Linked DNA regions of Homo sapiens. The protein of the gene in region 1 purifies or fractionates together with the protein of each later gene. This does not show direct contact. Each region holds a gene or a part of one and is shown in the gene's direction. Other genes may lie near its edges.

The links. The genes of interacting proteins can lie anywhere in the genome.
Region 2: the proteins of TFE3 (region 1) and AKR1B1 purify together in Homo sapiens (affinity purification with mass spectrometry; one large-scale study listed by BioGRID and IntAct). This does not show direct contact.
Region 3: the proteins of TFE3 (region 1) and NAP1L1 purify together in Homo sapiens (co-immunoprecipitation; one large-scale study listed by IntAct). This does not show direct contact.
Region 4: the proteins of TFE3 (region 1) and IPO8 purify together in Homo sapiens (co-immunoprecipitation; one study listed by IntAct). This does not show direct contact.

Annotation. Positions count from the first base shown.
Region 1 is NC_000023.11:49,030,732-49,033,713, reverse strand, and holds part of TFE3 (transcription factor E3), read left to right. Parts: intron 1-173; coding exon 174-249; intron 250-532; coding exon of another isoform or gene 533-578; intron 579-2,169; coding exon 2,170-2,317; intron 2,318-2,982. UniProt on the Homo sapiens protein: Transcription factor that acts as a master regulator of lysosomal biogenesis and immune response.
Region 2 is NC_000007.14:134,445,424-134,449,339, reverse strand, and holds part of AKR1B1 (aldo-keto reductase family 1 member B1), read left to right. Parts: intron 1-220; coding exon 221-343; intron 344-846; coding exon 847-953; intron 954-1,278; coding exon 1,279-1,360; exon of another isoform or gene 1,361-1,958; coding exon 1,959-2,042; intron 2,043-3,916. UniProt on the Homo sapiens protein: Catalyzes the NADPH-dependent reduction of a wide variety of carbonyl-containing compounds to their corresponding alcohols.
Region 3 is NC_000012.12:76,057,009-76,060,924, reverse strand, and holds part of NAP1L1 (nucleosome assembly protein 1-like 1), read left to right. Parts: intron 1-645; coding exon 646-787; intron 788-1,046; coding exon 1,047-1,127; intron 1,128-3,916. UniProt on the Homo sapiens protein: Histone chaperone that plays a role in the nuclear import of H2A-H2B and nucleosome assembly.
Region 4 is NC_000012.12:30,682,193-30,686,108, reverse strand, and holds part of IPO8 (importin-8), read left to right. Parts: intron 1-218; exon of another isoform or gene 219-309; intron 310-1,651; coding exon 1,652-1,808; intron 1,809-3,916. UniProt on the Homo sapiens protein: Involved in nuclear protein import, either by acting as autonomous nuclear transport receptor or as an adapter-like protein in association with the importin-beta subunit KPNB1.

The DNA of each region.
Region 1 (2,982 bases):
GCGTGTGCATTGCCCGGGTGCTGTGCAGGCCTGCCTCACCCCGAGTCCTGGCCCCCCATGGGGAACTCCTTCCCTGCAACAGCCTCCCAACTCCCTACTTTCTGTCTCTTCCATTTTTGGCTAATTGACAACTCTTTCTCCCACTCTTTCTTCCTCTCCTCCCCTCTCCAAAGTTGAGCGTCGCAGGCGATTCAACATTAACGACAGGATCAAGGAACTGGGCACTCTCATCCCTAAGTCCAGTGACCCGTGAGTCTGGGCTGGGACCCTCAGGCCAGCGGGAGGTGGGGCAGGCGTCCCATGCTACTAAAATTGTGCCTTGGTGGGCTCACCAGGCAGTCTCGGCCCAGGCATTTCTCCTCTGTCTGGTTCTTTCTCAGCCTGAGCAGGGTTGCAGACCCTCACTATGTCAGCACCTAAAATTTTAGGCACATAATGTTATGGTCTGTGTGCCCCATCTGGTCCCCGTAGGATATATGCACCTACTTTTCTGTTCACTTAGTACTTCCTTTTTTTTTTTCTTTTTTTTGAGATGGAGTCTCACGCTGTCACCCAGGCTGGAGTGCAGTGGTGCAATGGTACTTCCTTTATTTATTCAAGATTTATTTATTGGCCGGGTGTGGTGGCTCATGCCTGTAATCCCAGCACTTTGGGAGGCCAAGGCGGGGTCGATCACCTAAGGTCAGGAGTTTCAGACTAGCCTGGCCAACATGATGAAACCCCGTCTCTACTAAAAAATACAAAAATTAGCCAGGTGCAGTGGCTCACACTTGTAATCCTGGCACTTTGGGAGGCCAAGGCAGGCGGATCACGAGGTCAGGAGGTGAAGGCCAACATGGTGAAACCCTGTCTCCACTAAAAATAAAAAAAATTTAGCTGGGCGTGGTGGCACGCACCTGTAATCCCCGCTACTCGGGATGCTGAGGCAGGAGAATCACTTGAACCCGGGAGGTGGAGGTTGCAGTGAGCCAATATGGTGCCACTGCACTCCAGCCTGGGTGACAGAGCAAGACTTTGTCTCAAAAACAAAAAAAAAAAAAGATGGCCGGGTGCAGTGGCTCACGCCTGTAATCCCAGCACTTTGGGAGGCCGAGGCGGGTGGATCACAAGGTCAGGAGATTGAGACCATTCTGGCCAACATGGTGAAACCCCATTTCTATTAAAAATATAAAAATTAGCGGGGCGTGGTGGTGGGCACCTGTAATCCCAGCACTTGGGGAGGCCGAGACGGGTGGATCACCTGAGGTCAGGAGTTTGAGACCAGCCTGGCCAACATGGTGAAACCCCATCTCTACAAAAAATACAAAAAAAATTAGCTGGGCGTGGTGGCGTAGGCCTGTCATCTCAGCTACTCAGAAGGCTGAGGCAGGAGAATCGCTTGAACCTGAGAAGTGGAGGTTGTAGTGAGCCAAGATTGTGCCACTGCTCTCCAGCCTGGGTGACAGAGCGAGACTCCATCCCCCACCGCCCCGCAAAAAAAAAGGAAAAGAGAAAGATTTATTTTTTGAACCTCTGGTTTGTGCCAGGTACCATATTAGGCCCTAAAGATACCAGAGGGAACAAAACAGACCTCATGAAACTGATGTTTTAGTGGGGGCAGACAAATAGTAAATAAGTAAACATCCATGAGATCCATTATGATGAGTGTTATGAGAAGAATAAAGACTGGAAGGAAAATGGGAGAATGTTGGGGAGGGTTAGTTTGGGATAAGGAAGGTGAGGACAGGGCAGGCCCCAACTGACAAGGAAACGTTTGAATAAAGAGCCTAAGGAGGCAAGGCGGGGAGCCGCATGGGTGTCTGGGGGTAAGAGTATTCAAGGCAGAGGGCACGGCTGGGATTGATGCCCTGAGATGGGAGTGGTTTTCCATATTCTAGGAGCACTGAGAGACCAATGTGGCTGTAGTGAGATCAATCGGAGGGACATAGGGAAGAGAGGAATCCTAAGGGGTCAGGTCAGAGACGGCTTCCAGGGTTTGGAGTGTGATGGGGCACCATTGTAAGATTCCAGGCGGGAAGTTTTCCTCTGGATACTCCATACCTTTGAAAGACCCCAGCCTCAAGTTCTAAGCATGTGGTGGGAGGCTCCCACCTGGTGCAATCCCCGCCTCAGCTCCTGAGAAACTCCTCATGTGGCATTTCCTGCTTGCCTCCCACTTGGGCCCCACAGGGAGATGCGCTGGAACAAGGGCACCATCCTGAAGGCCTCTGTGGATTATATCCGCAAGCTGCAGAAGGAGCAGCAGCGCTCCAAAGACCTGGAGAGCCGGCAGCGATCCCTGGAGCAGGCCAACCGCAGCCTGCAGCTCCGAATTCAGGTTTGAAAAGAGGAGATGGTGGTGGGGGAAGAGGGGGAGAGCTTCCTGCAGGTGGAGGCAGAGAGAGAGCAGGCCAGGGTTTCCCTTCCTGGCATACTTGGGGGATCCCTGGGCTTCCCAGATCACACGATGATGATAGTGATAATGATAAATAATAATCATAATATTAACAAGGATAATAATATTGCTAATGTACATAGCATTTATCTTGTGCTCTGTACTGTGACAAGAGCTTTATATCCACTAACTTATTCAATCCTCAGAATTCTATGAGATAGGGGCCATTATTTTATTTATTTATTTATTTATTTTTGAGATGGAGTTTCGCTCGTTGCCCAGGCTGGAGTGCAATGGCGCAATCTCGGCTCACCGCAACCTCCGCCTCCCGGGTTCAAGCAATTCTCCTGTCTCAGCCTCCTGAGTAGCTAGGATTATAGGCATGCACCACCACACCCAGCTAATTTTTGTATTTTTAGTAGAGATGGGGTTTCTCCATGTTGGTCAAGCTGGTCTCGAACTCCTGACCTCAGGTGATCCACCTGCCTCGGCCTCCCAAAGTGATTACAGGCGTGAGCCACCGCGCCCAGCCTAGGGGCCATTATTATATACCCACTTTACAGTTTGCGACTCTGAAGCTTCAGAGATGTTAAGCACCTTGCCTAAAG
Region 2 (3,916 bases), on another chromosome or scaffold:
GCTGGGATTACAGGCGTGAGCCACCGCGCCCGGCCTGTTTGCTCTTCTTATCTCATTAAAGCCAGCCTGGCTTTCGTCTCACTGTCTCTTAGCTTCTGAAAGGTCTAATTCACTGGCACTGAAGAGTGAGGGCAGGACCCGTTAAACTGGTGCAAACGACACTTCTGATCCTGTCCTTTCTGGGTTCGTTTCTGCACCACACAGACACTTTTCTCTGTAGGCCATGGAAGAGCTGGTGGATGAAGGGCTGGTGAAAGCTATTGGCATCTCCAACTTCAACCATCTCCAGGTGGAGATGATCTTAAACAAACCTGGCTTGAAGTATAAGCCTGCAGTTAACCAGGTAAACATCCCCCAACGACACTGGCATTGCAACGTTGCTGTTTTACTGTCTGATGCTGGTAGGGATTTCTCGTCCACCTCACCCAGCAAGTGGCCAGGAGGCAGCTCCTGGGTGTTGGCAGAGTCCTGAGTTATGATTCAGCATGACACAGCACATCTGGGAGAGGAAACTTACAGGAAAGAAAGAGTTTGAGCCTGGCTTGTGACGATTTGGGGTCTGACAAAGAGGCAGCCATGAGATCCTCAGAACTGTGATAGTTGATAAGTGGCTAAAGCCAAGAAAAGCCTCTAGGGCCCATGAGAACATCTATAATAAGATAATAATAACACCAAGGATACTACCTGGGAACTGTAGGAAGTTACAGCTTATCTGGGAAATAGGGTGTTTGTTATACATAGTTTTCTGTATGGGGTAGGGAGGGACTTTAGCATAGGAAGCTTCATCTGTGTCCCATCAGCGTGTAGCCACAGTGCTCCCATCAGCTCTTGTTTTTGCATTTGCAGATTGAGTGCCACCCATATCTCACTCAGGAGAAGTTAATCCAGTACTGCCAGTCCAAAGGCATCGTGGTGACCGCCTACAGCCCCCTCGGCTCTCCTGACAGGCCCTGGTGAGCTTCCCACAGGCTCATGCTCCTGTGTCACTTGGTGAAGATTAGAAAAGACTAAAAAGAACAATTCAGCCTCAAGGAAGATGTTTCTGGGGGTGATCTGCAAAACTTCCCCTGAGCCTCTTGCTGGTTTTCCTGGAAGGGTTGGAGTTTCTAGTAGCAAGACACCTACTCTTTTTCCAAAGGGTTGGGGGTTCTTAACCCAGCTCTGAGGAGGAGACTGGTGGCTGCCCTCTGAGGTCGATGGGAGGATTAGGGTTGGGGTTTCTGGCTGCTGTGAGTGGTGGCCATGATGGTGTGACCTGGACTGTCTTTCTATCCTCAGGGCCAAGCCCGAGGACCCTTCTCTCCTGGAGGATCCCAGGATCAAGGCGATCGCAGCCAAGCACAATAAAACTACAGCCCAGGTACAGCCACTTCAGGTGTTGCTGACCGTCCACAACTGCCTGCATTCCTGACAGTCCTGTTAGCCAAGAGGAGGAAGTGACTGAGCCTGTTACACCCTCACAGGAAGTATGGTTAGGGGTCCTCAAGTACAGAGTGGAAAGGGCACAGATCGGGGTTTTAGAAGACTCTGGCATGGGCTCTTAGATTAATAGTGCCTGCCCCCACTACTGCAAGGGTGACTGCCACGAGGGCCAGCGCTTGTTCATTCATGTGGAACCTCATCTGTACAAATGTAAGAGCTCTTAGCCGTGCAGGGAATGTTCTTTCTCCTGAGTGGTAGTGTGCATTTCTAGCCAGTGGAGGGCCTCATGTGGTCTCATGATATGCCTGAGACACTGAAGCGTGTGGCACAGTGGCTAGCGCAGGACTCTGGAGTCAGATCTGGACCTGAATGCGTCGCCTACCTGTTGCTAGCTGTGACCTGACATCTTGGAGCCCCTCTCTGATCACCTGTGGAGTTCTAGCACGTCCTTCTGCAGGTTGTGTGTGTGAGAGACTGAGATGATGGGTGCGAGTGCCTGGCATGTATACACACTCACTGTCTCCTTGGGCTCACAGGTCCTGATCCGGTTCCCCATGCAGAGGAACTTGGTGGTGATCCCCAAGTCTGTGACACCAGAACGCATTGCTGAGAACTTTAAGGTAAGATCTTGGCTGGTCAGGCCTGGCCCTCCTCCATGGAGTGGGGGATGGGGGAGGCCTCTCATCCTGTCTCTGGAGTGTCATCTGTGGGATCACCACCATCCTCTCTTCTGAGGCCAGGGAGCTGTGGCGAGCAAGCCAAGACTGAGACTGACACCTCACCAGTGGAGCCGTGTGCAGGGGCAGGCCTTGGGCCTCCAGGGCCCCGTGCTGTGCACGCATACACCTACACCTTTGCTCAGGCCCTTCAGCCACACCGAGAGGTTACCCGGGGAGAATCTCGCTCTTGAGCTTCACTGCCTGGACCTGCCCTGCACTGGAGCTCTGTCAGCTACCAGCTGCATAACCCTGGGCAAGTCGCTTAACTGCTCGATGCCTCAGCTTCCCTATCTATAAAATAATATCCATTTTGAGGGTTGTTACGAAGATTAAGTGATGCATCAGAGCACTTCACATGGTGCTTAATACCTTAGTAAGTGATCGAGAAATGTTGCTGTGCTGATAAGTCCAGGGACTGCAAAGGACCCTCTGGGCCATTTAGTCCATTCACCAGCTCTGCAAGGAGTTCGTGTGATGATGGGCAGAGCCTAGACCTGTGTCAGGACTCTGGCGAAGCGCTCAGTGTGGCAGCTGGAGCAGCTCAGGCTACTTGGCGCCACCTCCCTCCCTGCCTGCCCTTGCAGCATTGGTGGCGGGGGTGTGGGGGAGGGGGGGGGCACGCCCAAAGGAGAGCAGCTCAGGGGAGTCCTGATGGCCCAAGAGCCTCTGTTCTCACTGAGCAAAGTGGCTCTGCCAGGGATGCTCTGTCTTTATCCAAGATCTGTGCCGAGCGCAGCACAGCCATGGGCCTGGGGCTCTTGGGCAGGCCCCAGCTTAGGTGAGCAGCTGATTTTGCCCAATTCCACTGCCCAAAGACTGTGGCCATAGTGCCTGCCACCTGTCACATATGAGACAGGGATGAGAGTGATCCCTGAAGAGGGAAGTGGAGCTCATTGTTTAGGAGAGGAGACGTTTTTCTTCTTACGTGCAGGTAGATGTTCTAAGTACACAAGATAAAATGGCAAAACAGTGGCCACTGAGGGAAAGGCATATCCCACCAGAGATGCATCGTTTGTTTCGTATTTCATTTTTTAAGGAATTAGGAAAGAAAAAATAAATGACTAATCTCAAAATGCTAACCTAATTATTTTATTTTTGCATCTTACTGTATAGCTTTTGCACATTTTTCTGTGATCATAACCACAGAGCCTGTAGCAGACTCTCTTTCTGCACATTCTGTGATCATCTGAAGCTAAGAGCCCTTCGGCTCTGGGAGTGTGTGTCAGCCTCTTGTGGGTCTCACCCAGTGGTGCCTGCCTGCCTCCCTCCCTCCCAGCCTCCATGCCAGCTGAGTTCTGTACCGTCTGCTGCCTTCATGCAGGTGGTTCTCTTCTCCCAGTATACCTTTCTTGCCCTCTCTGTCAAAATCTTATACTTCTTAGGCCATGTCAAATACCATCTCCTCTTCGGCTGTGGTTGTTCAGTTTCCCGGCTGGAATCCCTTTGGAATACCTCTGCCCTTCCTGTGCTGTTGAGTGTCTTATACAGTGTGTGATTAGTTATTTGTATTACAGTTGTAGAAATACCTCTGCCCTTTGTTTGCTTCATAAAATAGAGGCAAAGACACATCTTACCCATAATTATATTCCTCACTGCAACTTATCACAATAGAAGTGCTCAGTAGTGTTTTTTGAAATGAAATAAAATGTATCATTTCCCTGGGAGGTTCTGGAAAGGAAGGACTGTTTCCATCGTTCCATATATTATCTAGCCCAACATGCACATTTCCTGAATACTAATATATCAGCTTTTCCTAAGTTCAGTTTATCTTATCG
Region 3 (3,916 bases), on another chromosome or scaffold:
GACAGGGTTTTGTCATGTTGCCCAGGCTGGTCTTGAGTTTTTGGGCTAAAGGAATCCACCTGCCTCGGCTTCCCAAGGTGCTGGGACTACAGTTGTGAGCCATAGCACCTGGCCCTAAAGCTGTTATTTTAAAAATACATGTCTCCTCTTTATAGTATGTTACACTTGTATTTAATAATGTAATTACTAATTCCTAATTAAATATGGAGACTAAAAAAATAATGGTGTGTGGAATCTTGTCCTTTTTCCTGATATGTCTATGCTCCCCTCCTTTTTCCTAATAACTTGTATGGGTGAGATATATGTAAAAGAAAAATCCAAGTAATCATTGTTCTCAGAATTAAGATGGTCTGTCCATGACTTCAGCAATGACAAGTCCAACACTTAACTTGGGTAAAGATTTAGGGTTGACAATATGATTTACATTTTGTTTATCAATTTACCCAGTTACATTTCTACTTTTGAAATATAGCCAGTGGATCAATGTATTTATATCTATTTGATTTTTATTTACTTTGAATCTACCTTTTGCTTCAGATAAAAAACCTGTCATTCACTAACTCCAATGCTTCAGTTTCAGTATGACAAAAGAAGTGTGACTTCCATTTTACTCTGATGCTATATAACTGATTTCTAACCTTTCAGCCTGCCTAGGGTAGTTAAAAGACGAGTGAATGCTCTCAAAAACCTGCAAGTTAAATGTGCACAGATAGAAGCCAAATTCTATGAGGAAGTTCACGATCTTGAAAGGAAGTATGCTGTTCTCTATCAGCCTCTATTTGATAAGGTAATGCTTTCTCCTACTTTGTTTAATTTAACATTCTAGAAGACGAATTCTAGAAACATAAGCAGACTTGGAAGAGGTTAATCTTTAGAACTCTCATTGAAATTGTTATTAGAGGCAGCACTTGGAGGAACTATCAATAATAGCAGTTAAAGTTGTGGTATGCATTTGTTAAATTTGTAAGACTTCTTAGTGAGAAACCACTGGTTTTAGCTTGGATGCCAGTGTTTTTATACAGCCTTTTTTTTTTAAATCATTTTAGCGATTTGAAATTATTAATGCAATTTATGAACCTACGGAAGAAGAATGTGAATGGAAACCAGATGAAGAAGATGAGATTTCGGTTAGTACCAACTTTATTTTGGTATGTTTTTAAGATGATAAAATCTTAGGACTTGTCAGAAATGTTAGCATTTAATGATGGAGTACAATATTATATAACCAGTTGTATTTTTTCATTTTTTAATTTTACGTCTTTATTACACGTTTTTCTATTACTTTATTTTTAAAAAACAGTCATTCAAGATTGTAATTTGCATGGCAATAAGCAGCGGTTTCATGGGTTCTAAGTTTCTTAAGTGTCCACAGCAGTTTAAAACACCACAAGTCTTATTTCCAATTTGCAGCACCTGACTTAAAGTTCGAATTCATCTGATGGAGCATTAAAACTGTCATTTTCTCTTGTGAAAAGACATAATTGCTATTTCCAGGACTGTATATTGAACATGGTTGTACATTATTTTTAATTGGTTAGTAGAATTTTACTCATGTAATTTATATCCAGAATAAGAACCTCTAGCATCTCTGAATGGCCTTCCTCTCAGAACGATGATGATTAAATGTCTAAAATGTATCTGGGGTGCCCCCACTTGACATTACCAAACATGTTTCCAAATAATCTTAGAAAATATGATTCTTTAAACATATGCATACCACATCTTTAAACATAAACATACCACACAGTGCACCATCACTTCCTTAACCATTTTCCAATTGTTCACTTATAACATTTGCAATTTTTTATTATAAATCATATTGTGATGAATACTTTCATCCATAAGTTTTATTGCAAGGCTTATTGTTTCTTCTAATGTCTTCTAATTTCAAAGAAGTGGCTTACTGGTTCAAACAGTGCACATACGTGGTTTTAAGGCTTTTAGTATACTTTACCAAATAATCTCCAGAATAGCTCCAACAACTCCTACCAACAGTATGTTATTGTGCCCATAGGGTGGACTTGATAACAGCAAAGCAAATTCAACCACAGATATATTAGATTCTCACCCATCTCAAAACTATCACATCAGAGAAGCAAGGAGACATATTATTGGTGAGGAAGCCAAATTCAAATTCTTTTAAAAAATCACTCAGCTTTAGATCAGTAAAATAATCAACAAAAATGGTCACCGCAAAGTCTACCGGGTTTTTCAAAAAATAAAAAGAGAGAAAGAGAAAGGCCAGGCGCAGTGGCTCATGCCTGTAATCCCAGCACTTTGGGAGGCCTAGGTGGGCCAATCACTAGGTCAGGAGTTCGAGACCAGCCTGGCCAACATGGTGAAATCCCATCTCTACTAAAAATACAAAATATTAGCTGGGTGTGGAGGCGGGTGCCTCTAATCCCACCTACTCGGGAGGCTCAGGCAGGAGAATCACTTGAACTCGGGAAGTCGAGGTTGCAGTGAGCCGAGATCGCACCACTGCGCTCCAGCCCAGGCGACAGTGTGAGACTCCGTCTCAAAAAAAAAAAAAAAAAGTACCAAATAACCAAAATTTTTTATTTGACTAAATTCTGTTCATGTATGAGCATGACAGTCTCTCCTGTTTATTTGACTTTGGCAATAAAAAAATAAGCAGCCTTGTACAGAACAGGGAAAATGCCAAGAACGAAGGCAGTCTACAGTTTTACTGTAGAATACATATATATATATATATATATATATATATATGTAGGCCTCTCTCCCTTTGGCCATATCTACTGTCAGTTCAGGCCATTAACTACAGACAAATTTTCAAATTCACTTCTTCTCCAAGATCTTCGATGCTGTCATCATCTACTTCTGTCTGTTTTTCCTGAATGACCTCAATTATGTCATCTGTAAAGTCTCCTTGAATGATAATTTCATCCTCCTCTGTTACTGAGGCACCACAGGAGAATTTTTGAGCAAAAAATCTTTGTGTGATTTAAGATCAATTTCAAAAGTTACAAGGCCACAACCCTTGTCACATATTTCTTTGCTCTGGGAATTTTGGCTATAGTAACCTTTTGTGGTACCGTCTTTGTTTTTTTGTTTTATTTGACCCCTTCCACCTCTCTTCTGTTTTTTCTTCTCCTCTTCTTCCCCTGCTGTTCCTTGACCTTGACAGATTCCAGCTTCTTGTTTGGGTGAATTTTCCACAGTAAGTTTTGCATATTCATTTGGAAAATTCTTCTCTAATCATTGTCTACATTTAGCAACATCAGGCATATATTCACAGTACTCTATTGGTAATGAACAGACTCCACAATAAAGGACTCAAAGTAGGTAATCAGCATCTAACTTGGCTCTGTTCCTTGGGTCTCCTTTGCAGTCAGCCCTATTGGAATCGGAAACGTCAGCAGCCATTTCACAAACCCAGGCAGTTGCACAGGCCCCGCCAGCTCTGCTCCCGCCACTGTTGCCAGCTGAGCCGACAAATGCAACTCGTTTCCCCGGCCAGGGCCTCCCTAGAGCATCAGTTGTATTTTTATACCTAGGAAATATTTTTCCTTTTTGTAAGAATGATAATGCAGATGAACTGTTATTCAACCTGGCACCACCATCTGTACTCAAAAAGTCATTATTTCCTTACATTTTATAGTTTTTTTGTTTAAGAGACAGGGACTTGCTGTGTTGCCCAGGCTGGAGTACACTGGCATGATCTTGGCTCACTGCAGCTCATTCCTGGGCCCAAGCTATTCTCCCACCTCAGCCTCCCAAGTTGCTAGGACTATCTGAAGCTACTATGCCCAGCTTAATCTACTTTTTTTTGTAGAGGCAGAGTCTTCTTGCCTAGGCTGGTCTTAGACTCCTGGCTTCAAGCAATCTTCGCACCTCAGCCTCCCAAACTGTTGGGATTATGGGCTTGAACCACTGAGCCACTGTGCCCAGCCTA
Region 4 (3,916 bases), on another chromosome or scaffold:
GTTTTCACCCAAATGAATTGAAATCATAGATGGAACAGTTTTTCAGAACTTTAGCTACTCAAAACTAATGAAAGAGGAGCTTACCAGATGTCAAGTTCATAATTTCACTAAATTTCTTTTAAGTTTTAGCTAATGTAGAATGTATTGGTGTATTCTTTATGGTATAGTGCTTTGACTACCCAATTTAGTTTTTTTTTTTTTTTTTTTTGACAGAGTCTTGCTCTGTTGCCCTGGCTGCAGTGCTGTGGCATGATCTCAGCTCACTGCAACCTCCGCCTCCTGGGTTCAAGGAATTTGCTGGAATTACAGGTACCTGCCACCATGCTTGGCTAATTTTGGTATTTTTAGTAGAGACGGGGTTTCACCATGTTGGCCAGGGTGGTCTCGAACTCCTGACCTCAGGTGATCCGCCCGCCTCGGCCTCCCAAAGTGCTGGGATTACAGGTGTGAGTCACTGCTCCGGGTCATGAATTTAGTTATATGTTAAAAGTTGGGTGAAGAAAGAGTTGGGTGGGGAAAGAAGAGAAGCTTAAGGGAAGAAAGTTATGCTGCTTTGCAAATCACGTATCTGTATTCTTTACACACACACACACACACACACACACACAACATTATAAGTATTTACTTACATTCACTGTTCAACTGGGATGGTTAGAAAGCTTTACATTCTGGCCAGGTGCAGTGGCTCACACCTGTAATCCTAGCACTTTGGGAGGCCGAGGCAGGCAGATCACCTGAGGTCAGGTGTTCGAGACCAACCTGGCCAACATGGTGAAATCTTGTCTAACTAAAAATACAAAAATTAGCTGGGTGTGGTGGCACATGCCTGTAATCCCAGGTATTTGGGAGGCTGAGGCAGGATAATCGTTTGAACCCGGGAGACAGAGGTTGCAGTGAGCCAAGATCTTGCCACTGCACTCTAGCCTGGATGACAGAGAAAGATTCCGTCTCAAAAAAAAAAAAAAGAAAAGAAAAGCTTCACATTCTTTCTTAAAATGCTGTAGCAATATGTCAGCCTGTTTCTTTCAGAAGCCTTTTGTTAAAGGTTGAAGACGATTAAAAAGAACAGAACAAAATCAGATTATGTATTTTGATAGATGTGAACATATAAAAATTTTCTGAGCTTTTTTCCAAAAATTTTTGATGGCTGATGTTCATTTCCCTATTATATTTACAAGTAGTACATATTTCAAAAAGGTTGGATGAAAATTACCAATACTATAAAAAGAAGAGATACCCCAAAATGCTAGTGTTTGACAGTAGCCAGTGGGAAAACAAAAAACAAAAAAAGCCATCTTCATGAAGGAAAGTAGAACTTTACCTGTTGTCACCTCAGAATTAGGCATTGCGAAAAGTATGATTTTATGATCTCAAAGTATGTTTACTATGCATTATTTCTAGATAATTTTCCTGTCCTGTAAGCTCTGGGTCTTGACTTAATGAAATGTTTTCTGCTTAGACTAGCTGAAGTGAAACCTTTAAATTCTTATCCACTTTCCCTTCCTGATTTGGCTGTTTATACCTGTAAGAGTATCCATTTTTGCTGGGTTTCATGTTTAACATTGAAGGGTTTGGACTTTCATGCTCTGTAAGGCTGAATTAAAGCCATCCTTTTTGGTACTGCTACATTAGCATTTTTTCTCAAACTCAGCTGCCATTTACCTGAAGAACATGGTGACACAATACTGGCCAGATCGAGAACCTCCACCAGGAGAAGCAATATTTCCATTCAACATTCACGAAAACGATCGCCAGCAAATACGTGATAACATTGTGGAAGGAATAATTCGGTCTCCAGATTTAGTGAGGTATGTGGTGCTATATATTTGTGATTACTAGAAAGCATGAAATGGTTAGATCTGAGGGTGGGTGCTGTTGGATCTAATCCTTGGCCTCATGTTTCATTTTCTAAAGAGGTAAAGTAATAAAGAGGGACACTCAAAGAATATTATTTTACTTAGTGGTCTTTGCATTTGTAATTCTTTGCCTCAAGATATTTTGGAAAAGATTTTGTTGTCGTATGTTGCCACAAAAAGAGGTAAGATTTAAAAAAAATGATACTTAACCAAAACAATTGTGTAAGTCTTGCTACTTAAATGACCTTTATTCTTAGTAATGATCTCTTGAGTTTTTTTACTACCTGCTTTTCTTTTCTTTGATACAGAGAGACTGATTCTGGGAATTTTTACCTACTACCTGTCTTAATCTTTCCCTGTATTTTTATTCACATTTATGAATTGAGCATGTTTTCCTTCAGAGAAGACAGGATAGAGTAGGTATAAACTAGAAGAACTGTCTCCAGTTTTTTACAGTCATAGATTAGATGCTGTAGAGCAGTAGTGTCCCTCAGAACTTTCTGCAGTGACAGTGTTCTGTGTCAGTGCTATCTAATATTAGCCACAAGGCATCAATGACTGTTGAGCACTTGAAATGTTGCTAGTTGTAACTGAGGAACTGAATTTTTAATTCTATTTACTTTTGATTCATTTAAAGTGTGCATATTTAACTAGCAGCTGCTCTATTGGACAGAGCAGCTGTAAAGTCATAAAAATTTTGCAATCTTAAAATAGGAGAAACAAATTCTTTTCAACATACAAGATAGTAATTAGGTATCTTTTGAAAATGGGAGGGACAAATAGGTGAAAACAGAGGTAGAGGAATGAAATTTTTTAATATCAAGAGGTTGAATATAACGTTAGCCCTTAGTATCTAATAGCCATCATGACATAAGCAGTGGAAAAGGAAGGAAGTACGACGGGTAACAGGAAGGAGAACAAACATTGAACTCTTAGAGCAATTAATTTGTTAAGAGGAGAAAATAGGTGTACTGGTTAAAAAGAAAAAATCACTATTATTCTTATTGGTTGCCCAAATGCCAGTCATGGGACTGATACCCCTGTGGTACCATCATGTATCCATTTATTTTCAAAATCTTAAATTTTCAGATCTCCCTTAATCTTCGAGTGGTTCTACACAGTAATGCATGAAGGATGGCCTTTCATAACCATCCTTTGCTTGGAATGAGAAAGGACTGGGAGAATCAACCTGAAGATGAAATTTTAAAAAATGAAAAGCTTCAGTTTTATTTTTTACAAATATGACATTTATTGTTTAAAGGAGCAGCTACTACTGGCACTAAAGGAGATCTTTTATCTTTATTACGGGACGGTTCTCTGTGGCTTTGCTCCTTTTATGTCCTTAAGGCTTAATTATAATCATTGTTGAAATTTCTTCCACCTATTCTCAAAGTTTAAGAGTATTACAAAGGGATTTTTCAAATAGATTTGATAACGTGAAGAAAAGGCATCATTTTGTTTAATTTTACCAGTTTAAGTGAATCTGAGTTACTGGTTGTTCAACTGAAAATGCTTTATTTTTTTTTTAGTTGCCCTGTGGAATCCTAATTTTGCCAAGTTTGTTTTCTAACCATTTGAAAATGTCATGTAAGGTCATATTTGGTGATAACATTGAATTGATAGTTTATAGAAAAGAAATTTTTCCCCCTATTTTCTTTTCAGTTCCAGTTAAAGTTGAAATCTCATTGAGGAAATGATTACTTATCTATGTTATCAGATAACTTATTTTAGCATTTAACTTTGTGGTTTTATTAAAGGAATATTTTCTTTTTCTGTTTTATGTCTCTTCTGTTGCCTTTTTCATTTATTTCTTTGGAAATAGCTCTTAGCTCTCCTCTTCAGGAATTGCCTCGCTAATAATACATGTTTCTTTCTTATACTTGGGGTACAAAAATTAGTATCTCAGACTGCTTTGGATAGATTCAACATACGATGTTGGGTTTTAATTGATAATGGATGAGTTCAAGGTTTTGGCCCATAGAGAAGCTTCCCACCATTATGTAGGCCTTCTTTGTACTTACTTGTACCATCTTTAGACTAGGTTTATCTGTTTGAAGTGT